4 linked regions of the Homo sapiens genome follow. The protein of the gene in region 3 purifies or fractionates together with the protein of the main gene of each other region. This does not show direct contact. Each region holds a gene or a part of one and is shown on either strand. Other genes may lie near its edges.

Region 1 (3,500 bases), on a different chromosome or scaffold from region 3:
CCCCAGCTGGGGTGGCAGCAGCATGCACGCAATCACTGCCTGCGGGCCCCAGGGTCCTCAGAGCACCAATTCCCCCAAGGGGTGCCACAGACCCTGGGGAAGGGGCTCAGAGTGGGAGGACAAAGGAGCCAGGGGGCTGCCTTGACAGGTGGCAGACAGCACAATGGGGCTGCCAGGGTCAAGTTCCTGCTCTGGCCAGGAACCTGGGCCATGGCTTCCCAGGGCAGAGTGGGGTGACATGCAGGGACCTTGTCCCCACTCTGCCACCCAGACTAGCAGGGAAGGGAAGGGCAGCTGTGCAGTAGATACATGATCCTTGCTTCCAAACTGAACTGCAAGAAACCAGCCAACACTTCTGTTAGACGTCTGGAAAATCACTAACCTGATGCATGCACCGGGAGCCACGAGGCAGCTTCCCCTCAGAGATGTCAGTGATTGGGAAAATTGGTGTGCGCACTCAGGCTAGAGCCCTGCCTTCCCTCCAGAGACTGGATCCTGGGCCAGGGTCTCCGGGGCTACCCTGGAACCTGAGTGGCTGCACTTGGGAGCTCAGCCCAGCAGTCACCTCTCAGCCTTGGGGCGGTGCCCAAGCTGCCCCGCGGCTCCCCTGTGTAGTTGCCTCTCAGCTTTGGGGGCCCCCGGCAGGTGTGAAGTGCCCCCAGGCTCCCTGTGCAGTCGCCCCTCAGCGTCGGGGGCCCCTGAGAGGTGTTTGCTGCACCCCCCCGGCTCCCCAGTGCCACCAGCTGGGGGCGGGGTCCAGGGACATGCGTAGCCACTAGGTGCGTTTTCTCTCTCAACACTTGAGTTGTAACTTCAATAATTTCTCACTTCTGATGTTTCAAATGAGAGCAGCGGCTTAAAGGAGCAGTCGCAGTGACAGACCCAAACCCCTGACAGGAGGGGGTAGCTGCCCAGGAGGGTGCCGGACATGCAATGAACAGTCCCCCTGCCCCACCCCACTCCAGAGCAGGTGGCGGATGGCCTGCGTGGTCCCCAGCGAGGCCCACCTTGACGAGGTCGTCGATGTTGACCTTGCCATCCTTGTTTTCATCCAGTGCTGCGGCCAGGCTGGTGAGCTTGCTTTCGGGAATGTGCTTGACTTGCTTCATGGCGTTGATGAGCTCAGCGACACTGATGACGTTCTCCCTGTGGAAGCACAGCCTGCATGTGGCCACGGGCAGGCGTCCTGCCACACAGGGCCTCACTGCCCACACCTGTGGCTGCAAGTGGTCAGCACTGACACAGGCGGCTCCGCGTGAGCCAGGCAACCTCCAGCACGGACCCCCAAGGTATGATCCCATCCTGCATACAATGCCAAGAGCTCCCAGGGCCAGCGTGGACACAAACACAGAAACACCACCAGGTCCAGGGTTTCCACGGGCATGTCTGCCCCTCAGTGGCTGCCCCTCTGGGGCCATGGCTGCTGGGCTGTTGTCCTCAGGCCTGTGGCCACTTGGCAATACGTTCACGATCATGGGGGCTGTGGTGCCCTGGGCAGATGAGGGCCTCCAAGAGCAGGGACGAGAGCATGAGCAGGGTGCCACGTGCAGCCCACCTACAACACTGTGGGTGTGGAGGTGGAGATTTGGAACCTGCAGGGCACCAGCAGTCACCCAACAGCTGTTTCATTCGCCCAGAAGGGACTCACAAAACGGCAGCTCCCTCAGCCACTGCTGCGCAGGAATCTGGGACATGTCGGGCACAGAGAAGGCCGACTGCCCGAGCTGGTGTCATTACTGAGCGTGGGTGGGGTCAGGAAGAGGGAGAGGCAAGAGAGAGCCTGGTAATTAGAGGAAACAGAAGCCAACAGAGGTGGAGGTTGGAGCGGGAGGAGAGGGGGCTGTGGGAAGAGGAAGAGGGGCCAGGAAGGGACGAACTGCTCTCGGAGAGGCAGAGACTGACATGCCAGAGGGTTCCTGGCTGGGACTGCTGGTCAAAGGTGGAGAGGCAGCCAGGCAGAGGCTACAATGTGCCCTTTGGAGCCAGAAGGGCCCAGCTCGGATCCAGCAAAGGGACCAGCCTCCCTATGTGAGTCTCCGATCCCTCTCCCGCGCCCACCACCCCACTCACCCCGTGGGCATGCCGTTGGCCGGGGCCAGCTTGCCAGCCTGCTGGTCCATCTCCAGCTGCGAGATCAAGCCATCGATCTGCCCGATCATTTGCTGCACCCTTTTTGTCAATCTCTTGCTGGCTTTAGATTCTTCCACGTACTTTTCTTCACCAGTCTTTGAAAGTTCCTTCTTGATCTCCTGCAAGTCCTAATAAAATTATTTTGGTTGTAAAAAGTTTGTCTTAAAAGAAAAAGGGGGTCAGGTGTAGTGGCTCACGCCTGTAATCCCAGTACTTTGCAAGGCCAAGGCGGGCGGATCACCTGAGGTTAGGAGTTCGAGACCAGCCTGGCCAATGTGGTGAAACCCCGCCTCTACTAAAAATACAAAAATTAGCTGGGCATGATGGCAGGCACCTGTAATCCAGTTACTTGGGAGGCTGAGGCAGGAGAATCGCTTGAACCCAGGAGGCAGAGGCTGCAGTGAGCCAAGACCATGCCAACGCACTCCAGCCTGGGCAACAGAGCGAGACTCTGTCTCCAAAAAAAAAAAAAAAAAAAAAAAGAATCTGGTTGGGCACAGTGACTCATGCCTGTAATCCCAGAACTTTGGGAGGCCAAGGCAGGAGGATCACTTGAGGACAGGAGTTCGAAACCAGACCAGGCAACATAGCAAGACTTTATCTCTACCAAAATTCAAACAAAAAATTAGCCAGGCGTGGTGGTGCACACCTGTAGTGCCAGCTACCCAGGAGTCTGAGACAGGAGGATGGCTTGAGCCCAGGAGGTGGAGGCTGCAGTGAGCCAAGATCACATCACTGCACTTCAGCCTGAGTGACAGAGCGAGACCCTATCTCAAACAACAACAAAAAAAGGTAATAAATTAACTTGTAAAGGTAATTAAACCCATTAATTCAAACCAGAGAGTTATAAAATTGTATTTCTATCATACAAATTTCTTATTTTTGTACACTGCCTTGCAAGCAAAAGACATAGAATCTATTCTGAATCTCAATTTCCTTCACATTTGTTAAAGAAAAATTAAGTGAACTAATTAATCAAGGAAATTAAGTGTCTTTGTTTTTTGAGATAGGGTCTTGCTCTGTCACCCAGACTGGAGTAAAGTGGCATGATCTCAGCTCACTGCAGCCTCCAACTCCCAGCCTCCCACTCCCAAGCAATCCTCCTGCCTCAGTCTCTGGAGTAGCTGGGAGTACAGGCACACAACATCATGCCTGGCTAATTTTTGTATTTTTTGCAGAAATGGTGTTTCACCATGTTGCCCAGGCCGGTCTCAAACTCCTGAGCTCAAGTGATCCTCCTGCCTTGACCTCCCAAAGTGCTGGGATTACAGGCCTGAGCCACCAGTGCCCAGCCTTAAGTGTCTTTTTAAATTCCAAGTTGTTTTTTTCCCACGAGTAAACACCATGAGGAAGAATGGGGAAGGCGAGGG
Region 2 (3,500 bases), on a different chromosome or scaffold from region 3:
TAGACACAACTGTGACCCAGTGTCAGGCAGGGGTTTGTGAGAGATCATGGGAAGGGCTGAGGGTGCCTGGAGTTGGGGTACAGCATTCCTCATGGTCCGGGTTGCACAACAGCACTAGTGGGGGCCCCAGGGGAAGGCTGGGACTATTAGTTGGCCTCCCAAGGGCTAACGGGACCAAGGGTTTCCAGAATGGGGGTCCTCACAGGCCAGGTGGGTCCCACTGCACACAGATCGCCTTGCTCCGATTCGCTGTCTGTAGCAGGCGAAACTCTAGGCTGATGGGGGACTCCAGGATTCCCCTTAGGAAGTTGCGTCCGTGGAACACAGCCACGCTGACCACCGGGGAGTTCATGACGGGGTTCTGAGGAAGCCTGGGGAGACACCCATCTGGGCTTACGCACTGCTGACCTCCCCATGCTCAGCCTGCTTGCCTCACCCCGTCTTCATGCCACTCGCCAGGGCTGACCCAGGGTCTGGGATGTCCCCAGAGTGGAAGCTGTTTCTAAGAATCCCTCCAGCTTCTGCTGGGCTGCTGAGGGGCTGAGCAGCTCCAGGGGACCTGCAACTGTTTGCCTCTGATTGCCCTCCCTCCTACCCCCATCAGTCAGCCTGTCCTTGTCTGTCTCTGTCAGCCCTTTGGTCTGTCTGTACCTGGCTCATGGATCCCTCCTGTGTGTGGCTCTGTGTCTGTCAGCCTGTGGCTCTGTCACTCTGCACAACTCCAGAGAATAAGATTCACACAGAACCCGGCAAGGATGGGGCTCCCTGGAGCTGTGCTCCTCTCTGTGTGTTGTGAACCTACGCATCTACCCACCAAAAAAGGGGCTGCCAGGCTGAGAAGTTCGTAGGAAGCTCAGGGGTGAGGGGCCTGAGTACCTGGCACCTCGGCGTTCTGCCTGGAACTGGGCAGGGAGCAGTCCCCCTAAGGTGCGGTAAACGAGGAGAATGATAATGGAGATCCCAGGCTCTGGCTCTGGCGGGGCTGGTGGGGGGACCACACTTGAGGTGGTGGAGTTTTCTATGCTGCTGCTTGTGGGCAGAACTGCCAGGAGAGAAGGAGGAGCTTCTGTCAGTGACCTTTGACCCAAAGCACCCACCAACCCAGCTCTGAACCCGATCAAGCATGGGGGTCTCTTCCCTGCAGGAGCAGAATTGGGGAGTGCAGGGAGCATGAACCCAGAAAGTAACAGTCAAGGCCTGGGAGGGGTCATTTGTGATGAGGGAGAGGCTCTGACAAAGTGAAGGTGTGGCAAGGTGGACAGTGGAGGGGAGATGTGGGAGGGAGGGTGGAGGGGAGATGTGGGAGGGTGGAGGGGAGATGTGGGAGGGTGGAGGGTGGAGGGGAGATGTGGGAGGGTGGAGGGTGGAGGGGAGATGTGGGAGGGTCGAGGGTGGAGGGTGGAGGGGAGATGTGGGAGGGAGGGTGGAGGGTGGAGGGGAGATGTGAGAGGCAGGGTGGTGGGTGGAGGGGAGATGTGGGAGGGTGGAGGGTGGAAGGGAGATGTGGGAGGGAGGGTGGAAGGGAGATGTGGGAGGGAGGGTGGAGGGGAGATGTGGGAGGGTGGAGGGTGGAGGGGAGATGTGGGAGGGTGGAGGGTGGAGGGGAGATGTGGGAGGGAGGGTGGAGGGGAGATGTGGGAGGGAGGGTGGAGGGGAGATGTGGGAGGGAGGGTGGAGGGGAGATGTGGGAGGGTGGAGGGTGGAGGGGAGATGTGGGAGGGAGGGTGGAGGGGAGATGTGGGAGGGAGGGTGGAGGGGAGATGTGGGAGGGTGGAGGGGAGATGTGGGAGGGAGGGTGGAGGGGAAATATGGGAGGGAGGGTGGAGGGGAGATGTGGGAGGGTCTGACACTGGGGAGGTCTAGAAAGGGGAAAATTGGCAGGAGGGCAACATAGTATCTGGTTGGGGGGACAGAGAGACAGGACTTGGCCCAGGGGTCCCCTAGGGGCTCTCACCTTCAGATGGGGATGGCCGTGGGGACTGGGAAGGCAGCAGCACATGGGTGTGAGGATCCCAGGCATCCTGGCCTCGAAAGAGGTTGCTATGGTAGCGAGGGTAGCGACGGGCCCCCCGGGGAGAACTGGGGTGCTCCATGCGGTCAATGCTGAGCACTACCCAGGAGAAAGAAAGGGGAGGCCCATCATGGACCTCTTCCCCCTGCCAAGGGTTCTACTCCCTCTTACTCGCATCCCGCACCTGAGTCCCACAATCTGTTTTCTGTGCTACCAGCTCGGAGCCTGTCCCTACAAAACGCTGAGGGCGGTGGCTGAGTCTCCTGCCATTAACATTGGCATTGATAGCCACAGCCCCTCAGACCTTCAGGTACCTGCCCTTTCATGGCCCCCCTGCTGTGCCCCGCCCTACCCCACCCACAACGCACTGATATTAGGCGTCACCAGCCCCATGGGATTCAGGTATGTGAGTTCCATATTCCTTGCGAGTGTGGCTGCATACTCCTCCAGGTGCCTCACCAGTCCCGCGCTGCCTGGGGAGCCCCCAGGGGCCCGCTGCCCCAGCGCCGCCCACAAGTCCCCTGTCTCTGGGGCAAGCAGTGCAGAGCCGGCCCACAGCAGATTCTGGGAAGACAGAGATAGAATTGGGTTCAGCCAGGTGGTGAGGATGTATGAGGGGATAGGGCAGGCATGAGAGGTCTGGACAGGTGCTCAGAGGGGCTCCAACAGGCAAGGGGGCGGGGCTGGAGAGGACAAGGACAGAGGGAGAGCCCAGGACCTTCACTTCCCAAGAGAACAGCAGGAGCCTGAGCTGGGGATCCAGGGGCAGGAGGCTGGGAGCTGGGGGGCCAAGGCACTGAGAACATAGGGCACAGCCCCACCTCATTGAAGTGGGCATCCTGTGTGGCTGTCAGCCCGAAGCCCTGCTGATGGCTCTCGAAGGCCAGCAGGTGGGCCAGCAGGCGGGCAGTGACTCGAACATCTTGGCTAAAATAGTGGTCAGTGTGGCCAGTCACCTCCCGTAGCCGCTGAGCCAGCTTCTTGGCCTCCATGGTATCCAGTGCCGTCTTGTTCAGCTCTAGGCCATCCAGCTGCCAAGACAAGGAGATGGTTGCTCTGTGGTCCCTTAGGCCTTCCTCTAAAGCTTCACAGGGAGAAAGCCTTGCCAGATTAAAGGGCAACCAGGAAAGGCTCAGGAGTTCAAGGGCTAGGGTGTGGTATCTGGGGCCCACCACAGGCCAAGGAAGGTCTTAGGTTGCAGGAAAAGGTCTGGGCAGTCTCACCAGCAGACTGAGCTCTCGAAAGGCAGGGGAGGTACAGTTGAAGAGGTCGGGCTCCAGCCAACCCTGGGCCTCATCACACAGCCGCACAGCAGCACCTGGAGGCAGGCAACCCCTGGTCAGGCCTGGGGCCTGGATACCTTTGCTGAGGAGATAACCGCAGCACCCTCTCCTATGCTGGGGGAATCCCTGAGGCAGAAGTCAGAGTCATGAGCATCTATAGCTGCACCCCTGGAGGTAGCGGCCCAAGCCCAGGTAGGCCCCAGCTG
Region 3 (5,598 bases):
ATAATGTTCCTTGGTATTTTGTATATATTTTGTATGCACACCAGATTGGCAGTTTTCAAGACTATATTTCTTTCCTAGAGGTAGGAGAATGATTAGAAGACCTCTAGCTATATTAGTTTAGGGCTGCAGATAAGGCAGTTACACATTATATATTAGGGCTGTGTGTGAGAGGGACAACAGACACAAAACATTGTCTTTTCTTTGATGAAGGATATAGAATGAGCTTGAATACAGATTAATCCTGAAACTCCTATGTTACAAGTAAGGAGAATCTGCTTTTGATCTTCTAATGAGCATAGTAGACCTTTTTCTAAGTAAAAGGATCTCTCTCACACACACACACACACACACGCACACACAGCGTACACTGCATATAATCACAAGGGGTCCATGGACATAAAAATCCAGTTGACTCCTTATTCTAAGAGCTTTTGAAACAAAAGGGAAGTTAACACAGGAAACAAAACAGTGGACTACTATGGAGACCATACCAGTTAAATTAGTTAAGAAAAGTGTTGAATTTTAGCTTAAATTCTTTGGCTTTATTATTTTTATATTTATGGTATATCCAAGCTGAAAAAAGTATTCATCATATATTAGTCAACAAGAAGGAAAATGTATAGGAAAAATCTCATTCACTTTTTAGGAGAGAGCCAACAACTGTCTAACACTTTCACTTTGTGGTTAAAACCACACCCTCATTGCTTTATAAATCTAAGCTTGGCTAAAAAACAAACAAATGTTGGGCCACACAATTGCTCCTACTTTACTCCTCCTTTGTAGAATGATATGACAGCTTTTTAACTGACTACAACTTTCCTAAAATGATCCATGACATCTAAAAATTATATATTTTCCTGCAAATATGTATATTTTCTTGTGAATATGGAGAAATGGGTAGGCAATGAGCATTAAATTATACTTAAAGGAAACTCACCTGATGGGAAGTCAATTCACTGGAATTACAAAGTGGAAATAAGGCCCCAGATGAATCACCGCAAAGTATGTCTTGTCCTGAACTCAACTGCTCACTACATTTTAGGAAATTAAACTCCGTCTTTCCTGTATGTGCAACACATAGATTGTAGGAATAAGGCAAAGTCCCCTCGCTGTAGTTGGGGGGAACCACGGATTCGGATTTAACACAGAGACCAGGCTGGAAGCAGCTCCAGGAGGCGGGGCTGGAGGAGCGTCGCAGGCGCAAGGCAATGGCCAGAATCATGGCCACGAGGAAGAGCACTGAGATCAAGGCCAAGGCCACCACTAGGTAAAACTGCAGCTCAGCCTGGAGGTCAGAGGGGTCGGGGCGGTCAGTGATATCCGGCAGCACCTCCTGCAAGCTGTCGGCGAAGACCAGGTGCAACGTGGCAGTGGCCGAGAGTGGTGGCTGTCCACCGTCACGCACGGCGACCAGAAGGCGCTGGCGGACGGCGTCCCTGTCGCCTAAGGCACGCGCTGTGCGCACTTCGCCCGTGCGCAGCCCCAGGCTGAAGAGCCCGGGCTCGCTAGCCTGCAGCACGTGGTAGGACAGCCAGGCGTTGTGTCCTGAGTCTGCGTCCACCGCCACTACCTTGGTCACCAAGTAGCCAGGCTCTGCAGCGTGCGGCACCATATCGAAGAGCGCAGAGCCGTCGGGACCCAGCGCGGGGTACAGCACCCGTGGCGCATTGTCGTTGCGGTCGTCCACTAACACGCGCAGGCTCACGTTCGCGCTGAGCGCTGGCGAGCCCTGGTCGCGGGCCTGCAGTGTGAGTTCGAAGGCGCGCAGCTGCTCGTGGTCGAAGGCGCGCTGCGCGAACACCACCCCGCTCTCCGCGCTTATGGACACGTAGGATGACAGCTCCCGCTGCTCCAGGTCACTGGCCATGATGCAGTAAGAGACTTGGCCGTTGGGCCCCAAGTCCGGATCAGAAGCCCTGACTTGTGAAATAGAGGCTCCAGGCGGGTTGTTCTCGGCCACGTGGACTATATAGGAAGACTGTGAGAAAACCGGAGCGTTGTCATTTACATCACCAATGTGCAGGGTGATGCTGGAACTGGAGGAGAGGGGAGGCTTGCCCCGATCTGTTGCCGTAACGGTTATATTGTACTCTGGATTCTGCTCGCGGTCTAGAACAGCATCTGTCACTAATTTATACGTGTTTCTTGAAGAAGTTAATATTTTAAATGGAACATCACCTTCCAATTTACAAGTCACTTCTCCATTGTGTCTGGAATCCTTGTCACGGACTTTGAGCAAAGCAATATGTGTTCCCAGCTCGGCGTCCTCCATAATTAGGTTGGGTAGAGACTGGAATATCACTTCTGGGGCGTTGTCATTTTCATCTATGACTTCTACCTCCACTGTGCATTGCGCAATCATTCCTCCACCGTCCCTTGCTTCCAAAACTATGGAATATTCTTTGACTTCTTCAAAATCTAATGTATTTAAAACAGTAATTTCCCCGGTGTTAGAGTTCAGGTCAAATTGGGTGATCTGGCTAGCTTCACTGAAAGAGAAAGTAATCTCGGCATTGACACCCTCATCCTGGTCCGTGGCAGTCACCTGTAGCACCGTGGTCCCCGGGTACACGTTTTCTGAAAGGCTCACCCTGTATACGTCTTGACTGAACACTGGAGCATTATCATTGGCATCAGTCACTAGAACGTGTATCTGTGCAGTGCTGCTTAGGGGTGGAGCTCCAAAGTCCAAGGCAGTCAAAGTCAAGTGGTAGGATTTCTGCTTTTCTCTGTCCAAAGGTGTCTTCAATACCATCTCAGGGTATTTACTGCCATCTGATTTCTCTTTATTTATCAGTGAGAAATGATCACTGGGACTGAGTTGGTAATTCTGCAGTGTGTTGCTACCAATATCCGCATCATGGGCAGATCCTAATATAAATCGTGTGCCAGGCTGTGCAGACTCACTTATTTGCAGCTCAAAGGAATTTTGCGTGAATTTTGGCGTGTGGTCATTAATGTCCTCGATCTCCACATTCACGTGATAAAAGTTCAGTGGATTTTCAGCAACAGCCTCAAATTCCAGAGCACAAGCTGGCTTCTTCCCGCATATCTCCTCCCTGTCTAGCCTGCTGCTCACAAGCAACTCCCCGCTCTCTGCGCTCACGGTGAAGTAAGGCTTCTCCGAACTGACGCGCAGTTTTCGAGTCGGTAACTCCTGGACGCTGAACCCCAGGTCCGTGGCGAGGTTCCCCACTACGGAGCCCTTGGGCATTTCCTCGGGAATCCTGTAGCGGATCTGCTCACAGAGCGCCGGGCAGAACAAAGACAGCAGGAAGAGAAAGAGCACTGGCAGCCTCTCAGCCCGGCCCAGCTCCCCGGCGCCGCTCCCCATCCCTCTTGCTCTCCTCAGCTTGCTCACCAGCCTGGAGACGCCGGGTTACAAATAACCTCTGTATTGCAGATTTTTGGATCTCCGAACGGACTTTAGTTGCAGTTCCAGTTCAAGAAAAAATTCTTCTTTTTCCGAGGAGGAAGCGGTGTAAAGGCTGGCGCTGGGGAGTCTGAGCTGGGGCTGCCCTGGAAAGCGCGCTGCGGCTGCGCGAGGAGATCTGGAGCGCCAAGCTCTCCACTTTGGCCAACAGCGGCGCCCAGAGTCAGCACTAGGAAACTACAGCCTCTGCTGCTTCAAGTTAACCAGTGCAATAATTATAATTGTGTGCCTAACTGAAAGAACAAAAACTACGTGGATACGTCTGTATATTTAATGACGTCTAAAAATGTACTCTTAGGAATGCCTTCATCCCAACTTTGAGGATTTTTAGGCAAATCATGTAGATTAAGTACATAAACATTTATTGACATAAGCTTTCCCCAATCTTCAAACATGCACTATCTATATAAAGATAGCCATAACACAGACTTGGCCTAAACCGTCTCAGAGTACAGTAATTTTCCATACTTACTCATTAGAAATATACTGGATACATTTTATCTTTCTTTCATTGTTCCTAACATTTTCTCCACTTTTCTAAGTACCTCCAAGTTGATTTATTTCAACTTTTTCCGGAGAGTATCAGTAATACCAAAATTGCCTTTTAGAAGGTGCAATTTATACTTATCTTCAAATACACCCCCTTCCCAATAGTTTCAGTGATTTCATTACAGGAATATTATGTGATTCTCATTTCGATGATCACAGGCAGTAGCCTACTCCTCTCCTCATTACACAATTATTTTACTGGTTATGAAATACAACATTCATCTTCAAAGTTATCAGGGGGATAATACATAGCCTCAAAACACAAAGTCACTGAGATCTGCTGCACTGAAGCACTGCTTCCTACCTCTGCACTTATTTTACATTCCTTGGTGACCTCTGAATTGAAGGAAACAATCCCTGGAAAGTTTGATTGCAATAGCTCACTGAGTTTAGTGATTATGTCTCTCCATTGCTTAAAAACAATTTTATGCATCTAATAAATTTTGGTCAGGAGATTTTCTTTTACAAAATACCTTATAACCGTAGTTCTGCCATAGGATCTTCCCTCAGTAACATTGTTGGTGTCAGCAACATTGTCTTCTACCCCAAGTGATTGTACATCTGAAATGTGAACACTGCAGAACTTGTAAAATGTATCCAGCCTGGGTGACAGAGCGAGACTCCATGTCAAAAAAAAAAAATGTATCCCCCACACTATTGTACAGAGTCTATCATGTGCAAAATACTACCAAATACAACACTAGTCTAAAAAGAGTCTTTTTTTGAAGAGACAGAGTCTTGTTATATTATCTAGGTGGGCCTCCAATTCTTGGGTTCAAGCTGTCCTCTTGCCTCAGCCTCCCATGCAGGTGGGCTACAGCTTGCAACACCATACCTGGCTAAAAGTGTGTTTTTAATTAATACTCAAAGGTCTCTGGAATCAAGATTACCTTGTCATCCACCCCTTCTGGATGACAATCACTTGATATACTGAGCTTTACTAAAATGTTATACAAAAGAATATGGAAGTAGTTAATCCCAGATTGGGTTATTTCCAACTGAATTTTTCAGTAGACCTAATAAATAAAATCAACTACTGGTCTAGGATCTGTGTACATAAGATGGTCTAAGGTTTGAGTACGTGAGACAGTTGAAACAAAGCCAGTATCCCCAATCTCCCACTTTGATAGCCCACAGACACACTTCATCTGGCTGTACCACTAAAACAACATACTGGAATTCTCTGTTAAAACATGTAATTGCCTATGTCACAAATGCCAATTACAACACTTAAAATGACATTTTATTTGACATATTTTATTGGTTTTGTCCGATGGCCTTTAGTGTGGCATTAGACTTGATGTCTGTCTTTGATATAGATCTTAGTGAAGTGTGATACACACACATTTCATTCTTTAGGCATAAATCCAACCTTCTACTACCACCCCATTAATAAATGATTATACTGTAAATAGGTCAAGAAGCAATCAAGATTTTTTAGGACCACCAAGCTGAGGTACATGGAGGCAGAATCAGCCACAGAAAAAAATCTTCACATGGAAGAAATCTTTCAGAACCTTTTACATATTTGAATGCTAAAGAGAATCCTGAGAAGACAGCTGAGGTGTGTTTTATTCCTGCTAACCTTGTGCAATATGAAAGACTCGATTCATTCC
Region 4 (3,500 bases), on a different chromosome or scaffold from region 3:
CAACATATGAAAATCAGTTGTATGTCTATATCCTAGCAATGAACAATCTGAAAAGGAAATTAAGAAAACAATTCCATTTACAAAAGCATCAGAAAGATTTAAATACTTAGGAATAAATTTAATCAAGGAGGTGCAAGACTTGGATGCTGAAAACTATAAAGCATAAGTTAAATAAATAAATCAAAAGACATCCCATGTTCATGGATTGGGAGACATTATTGTTAGAATGTCAGTACTCCCTAAATTGATCTACGGATTCAGTGCAATCCCTATAAAAATTTTAATTATCATTTCTGCAGAAATGGACAAGGCGATCCTATAATTCATACAGAACTGCAAGAGACCCTGAATACCAAAACAATCTTGAAATAGAAGCACAAAATTAGAAGACTCACACTACACAATTTAAAAACTTACCGCAAAGCTACAGTAGTTAAATTACAAGGATAGACACCTAGATCAATGGATTCAAATTGAGATTCCAGAAATAAACCCATATTATCTATGGTCAGTTGATGGTTTTGTTTTGTTTTGTTCTGAGACAGAGTTTCACTCTTTTTGCCCAGGCTGGAGTGCAATGGCACGATCTCGGCTCACTGCAACCTCCACCTCCTGGGTTCAAGTGATTCTTCTGCCTCAGCCTCCCAAGTAGCTGGGAATACAGGCACGTGCCACCATACCCGGCTAATTTTGTATTTTTAGAGTAGAGACAAGGTTTCACCATGTTGGCCAGGCTGGTCTTGAACTCCTGACATCAGGTGATCCACCCACCTCAGCCTCCCAAAGTGCTGAGATTACAGGTGTGAGCCACCACGCCTGGCCATGATTTTTGACAAGGGCGTCAAAACCATTCAGTGGAGGAAAGAATAGTCTTTTCAACAATGATGGTGGAAGAACTGAATAGCCACATACATAAAAGCATAAAGGTGGTCCCTTACCTCATACCATATATCCCAATTAATTTAAAAATCAATCAAGGACCTAAATGGAAGAGTTAAAACTACAGAACTCTTAGAAGAAAGCATAGGGACAAATCATCATCACCTTGAATTTAGCAGTGGTCTCATAAATTATAACACCAAAAGTACAAGCAGCAAAAGAAAAATCAGGTAAATGGACTTTATCAAAGTTAAAATATTTTATGCATCAGAGGACATTGTCAAGAGGCAGAAATAGATTTGGGATTGCCAGGGATTGAGGAGGCAAGGGAGATGGGGAGTGACTACTTAATAGGTATGAAGTTTCTTGTGGGGATGATGAAAATGTCCTGGAATTACATTGTGGCGATGGTTGCACAACTCTGTGAATATATTAAAAATTATTGAATTGTATACTTCAAAATGCTTTAAACTGTGAACCTTGTTATTTGAATTTTACCTCAATGTAAAAAACCAACATTCTTCAAAGTAAGATTAATTAGGTATTCACATAATGAATTTCCTGAATTAGTATCCATATAAAATACTTTTGAACAAATCCAAGAAAACTTTAAGGGGGAAAAAATCTTTTCACCATATATCCATACAGTCATTAAAAGTATATACATTCAAAATATAAGCATATAATTATGTTTATATTTTGATTTATACCCATCTAGGTCTTTTAAAAACTGTTTTTATTATGGTTATTTTAAAATATTTCAGTCGGTTTTTGGAATGGCAGTCAGGAAGCCTAGTGTTTTTGATTTTTGTTTTTGTTTAGAGACAGGGTCTTGCTCTGTTGCCCAGGCTGGAGTGCAGTGGTAGGATGATAGCTTCATTGTAACCTCAAACTCCTGGCCTTAAGCAATCCTCTTGCCTCAGCCTCCAAAGTAACTAGGACTACAGGTGCACACAACCACACCCAGCTAATTTTTAAATCTTTATTATTATTGTTTTATAGAGAGAGGGTCTCGTTGTGTTGCCCAGGCTAGTCTCGAACTACTGGCCTCAAGTGATCCTCCTGCCTTGGCCTCCCAAACTGCTGGGATTATAGCCATGAGCCACTGTGCCTGGGCAGGAAGGCCAGTGTTTAAAGCAGCAGTGTATCTAATGCTTCACAGGGATCTAGTGTAATGTAATGGAGAAATCTTTGTTGATTAGTGAAATTGTTATGTATTATAGGGTCTTCTTATTTGAAGGATGATGAAATGGTATGATTTGCATTTTCTATAACTGAAGAACGTTTTTGTCCCCACTTAACGATAGCTACCTGCCATCACTTTTGTTTAATGCTTGGTCTTGTACGTTTATCAATAATTTCTCTCCTCTTGCTGAGATAAGCACTAATTATTAGAAATATAATGCAAGCCACATATGTAACTTTAAATTTTCTAGTAGCCACATTTAAAAAGTAAAAAGAAATAGGTGAAATTAATCTGAATAATGTTTTATTTAGCTATATTCAAAATATTAATTTTTTTTTTTTTTTGAGACGGAGTCTCACTCTGTCACCCAGGCTGGAGTGCAGTGGTGCAATCTTGGCTCACTGCAAGCTCCGTCTCCCAGGTTCATGCCATTCTCCTGCCTCAGCCTCTCAAGTAGCTAGGACTACAGGCACCCGCCACTGCGCCCAGCTAATTTTTTGTATTTTTTTTAGTAGAGACAGGGTTTCACCGTGGTCTCGATCTCCTGACCTCGTGATCCGCCCGCCTCGGCCTCCCAAAGTGCTGGGATTACAGGCATGAGCCACCGCGCCCGGCCCAAAATATTAAACTATTTTAACATATAGTCAGTACTTTTCTAAAATCTGTTAATGAAGAACTTTACATTCTTCTAAGTCTTCAAAATTCGTTGTGCATTTTTACACTTGCATCACATCTCAATTCAGACGCATCACATTTCAAGTGCTCAATAACCACATGTGGCTAATGCCTAGAATACTGGACAGTGCCGTCTTAGATAATCACAACTAGGATATTGTCTGTAGAAGAGATGGATTTGTTATTTCTGGGAATGGAATAACAACATTTTGTTTCTCTTTGTGGCCCCAAAACAAGCATTAGTTTATTAGCCAGGTGTTGACTTAAAAGATACAAAGAAAAGCCTCTGTGTTTTAGTGGGGTGAAGAAAAGAAAACTTGGCATAAGCATAGTTTTGAGGAATGAGAATAGGAGTGTAGGAGGAAGGACCTGAATTCAGAACAAGGGAAGTTATACTGCATAATATTGTGGATAAGTCCATGTGTGGATGGGACAGCATGCAGAGGGGAGTACTCAGATTTGGGGAAAATGTCTAGTCCTGGACTATGTTTCTGAGTCAGATGTTAAAAGTGCCTAGTTGGCCAAGGGACTATCTTCCCAATCTTCACCCTCCCCATACCTGCCCCATGAAATGGATGTCATAAATTATATAGCGACTAAAAGCAGGTATGATCAACCGGGCATGGTGGCTCACGCCTGTAATCCCAGCACTTTGGAAAGCTGAGGCAGGTGGATCACCTGAGATCAGGAGTTCTAGACCAGCCTAGCCAACATGTTGAAACCCCATCTCTACTAAAAATACAAAAATTAGCCGGGCGTG

The links.
Region 1: the proteins of PCDHGB4 (region 3) and LETM1 purify together in Homo sapiens (affinity purification with mass spectrometry; 2 studies listed by BioGRID and IntAct, with this or other methods). This does not show direct contact.
Region 2: the proteins of PCDHGB4 (region 3) and CELSR3 purify together in Homo sapiens (affinity purification with mass spectrometry; 2 studies listed by BioGRID and IntAct, with this or other methods). This does not show direct contact.
Region 4: the proteins of PCDHGB4 (region 3) and ST7L purify together in Homo sapiens (affinity purification with mass spectrometry; 2 studies listed by BioGRID and IntAct, with this or other methods). This does not show direct contact.

The regions. Positions count from the first base shown.
Region 1 is NC_000004.12:1,814,657-1,818,156, forward strand, and holds part of LETM1 (mitochondrial proton/calcium exchanger protein precursor), read right to left. Parts: intron 2,259-3,500; coding exon 2,071-2,258; intron 1,147-2,070; coding exon 1,008-1,146; intron 1-1,007. UniProt on the Homo sapiens protein: Plays an important role in maintenance of mitochondrial morphology and in mediating either calcium or potassium/proton antiport. Mediates proton-dependent calcium efflux from mitochondrion.
Region 2 is NC_000003.12:48,645,887-48,649,386, forward strand, and holds part of CELSR3 (cadherin EGF LAG seven-pass G-type receptor 3 precursor), read right to left. Parts: intron 3,330-3,500; coding exon 3,235-3,329; intron 3,043-3,234; coding exon 2,833-3,042; intron 2,576-2,832; coding exon 2,380-2,575; intron 2,111-2,379; coding exon 1,955-2,110; intron 1,043-1,954; coding exon 877-1,042; intron 372-876; coding exon 204-371; intron 1-203. UniProt on the Homo sapiens protein: Receptor that may have an important role in cell/cell signaling during nervous system formation.
Region 3 is NC_000005.10:141,385,621-141,391,218, reverse strand, and holds the start of PCDHGB4 (protocadherin gamma-B4 isoform 1 precursor), read right to left. Parts: upstream 3,522-5,598; 5' UTR 3,335-3,521; coding exon 938-3,334; coding exon of another isoform or gene 923-937; intron 1-922. UniProt on the Homo sapiens protein: Potential calcium-dependent cell-adhesion protein. May be involved in the establishment and maintenance of specific neuronal connections in the brain.
Region 4 is NC_000001.11:112,584,642-112,588,141, reverse strand, and holds part of ST7L (suppressor of tumorigenicity 7 protein-like), read left to right. Parts: intron 1-3,500.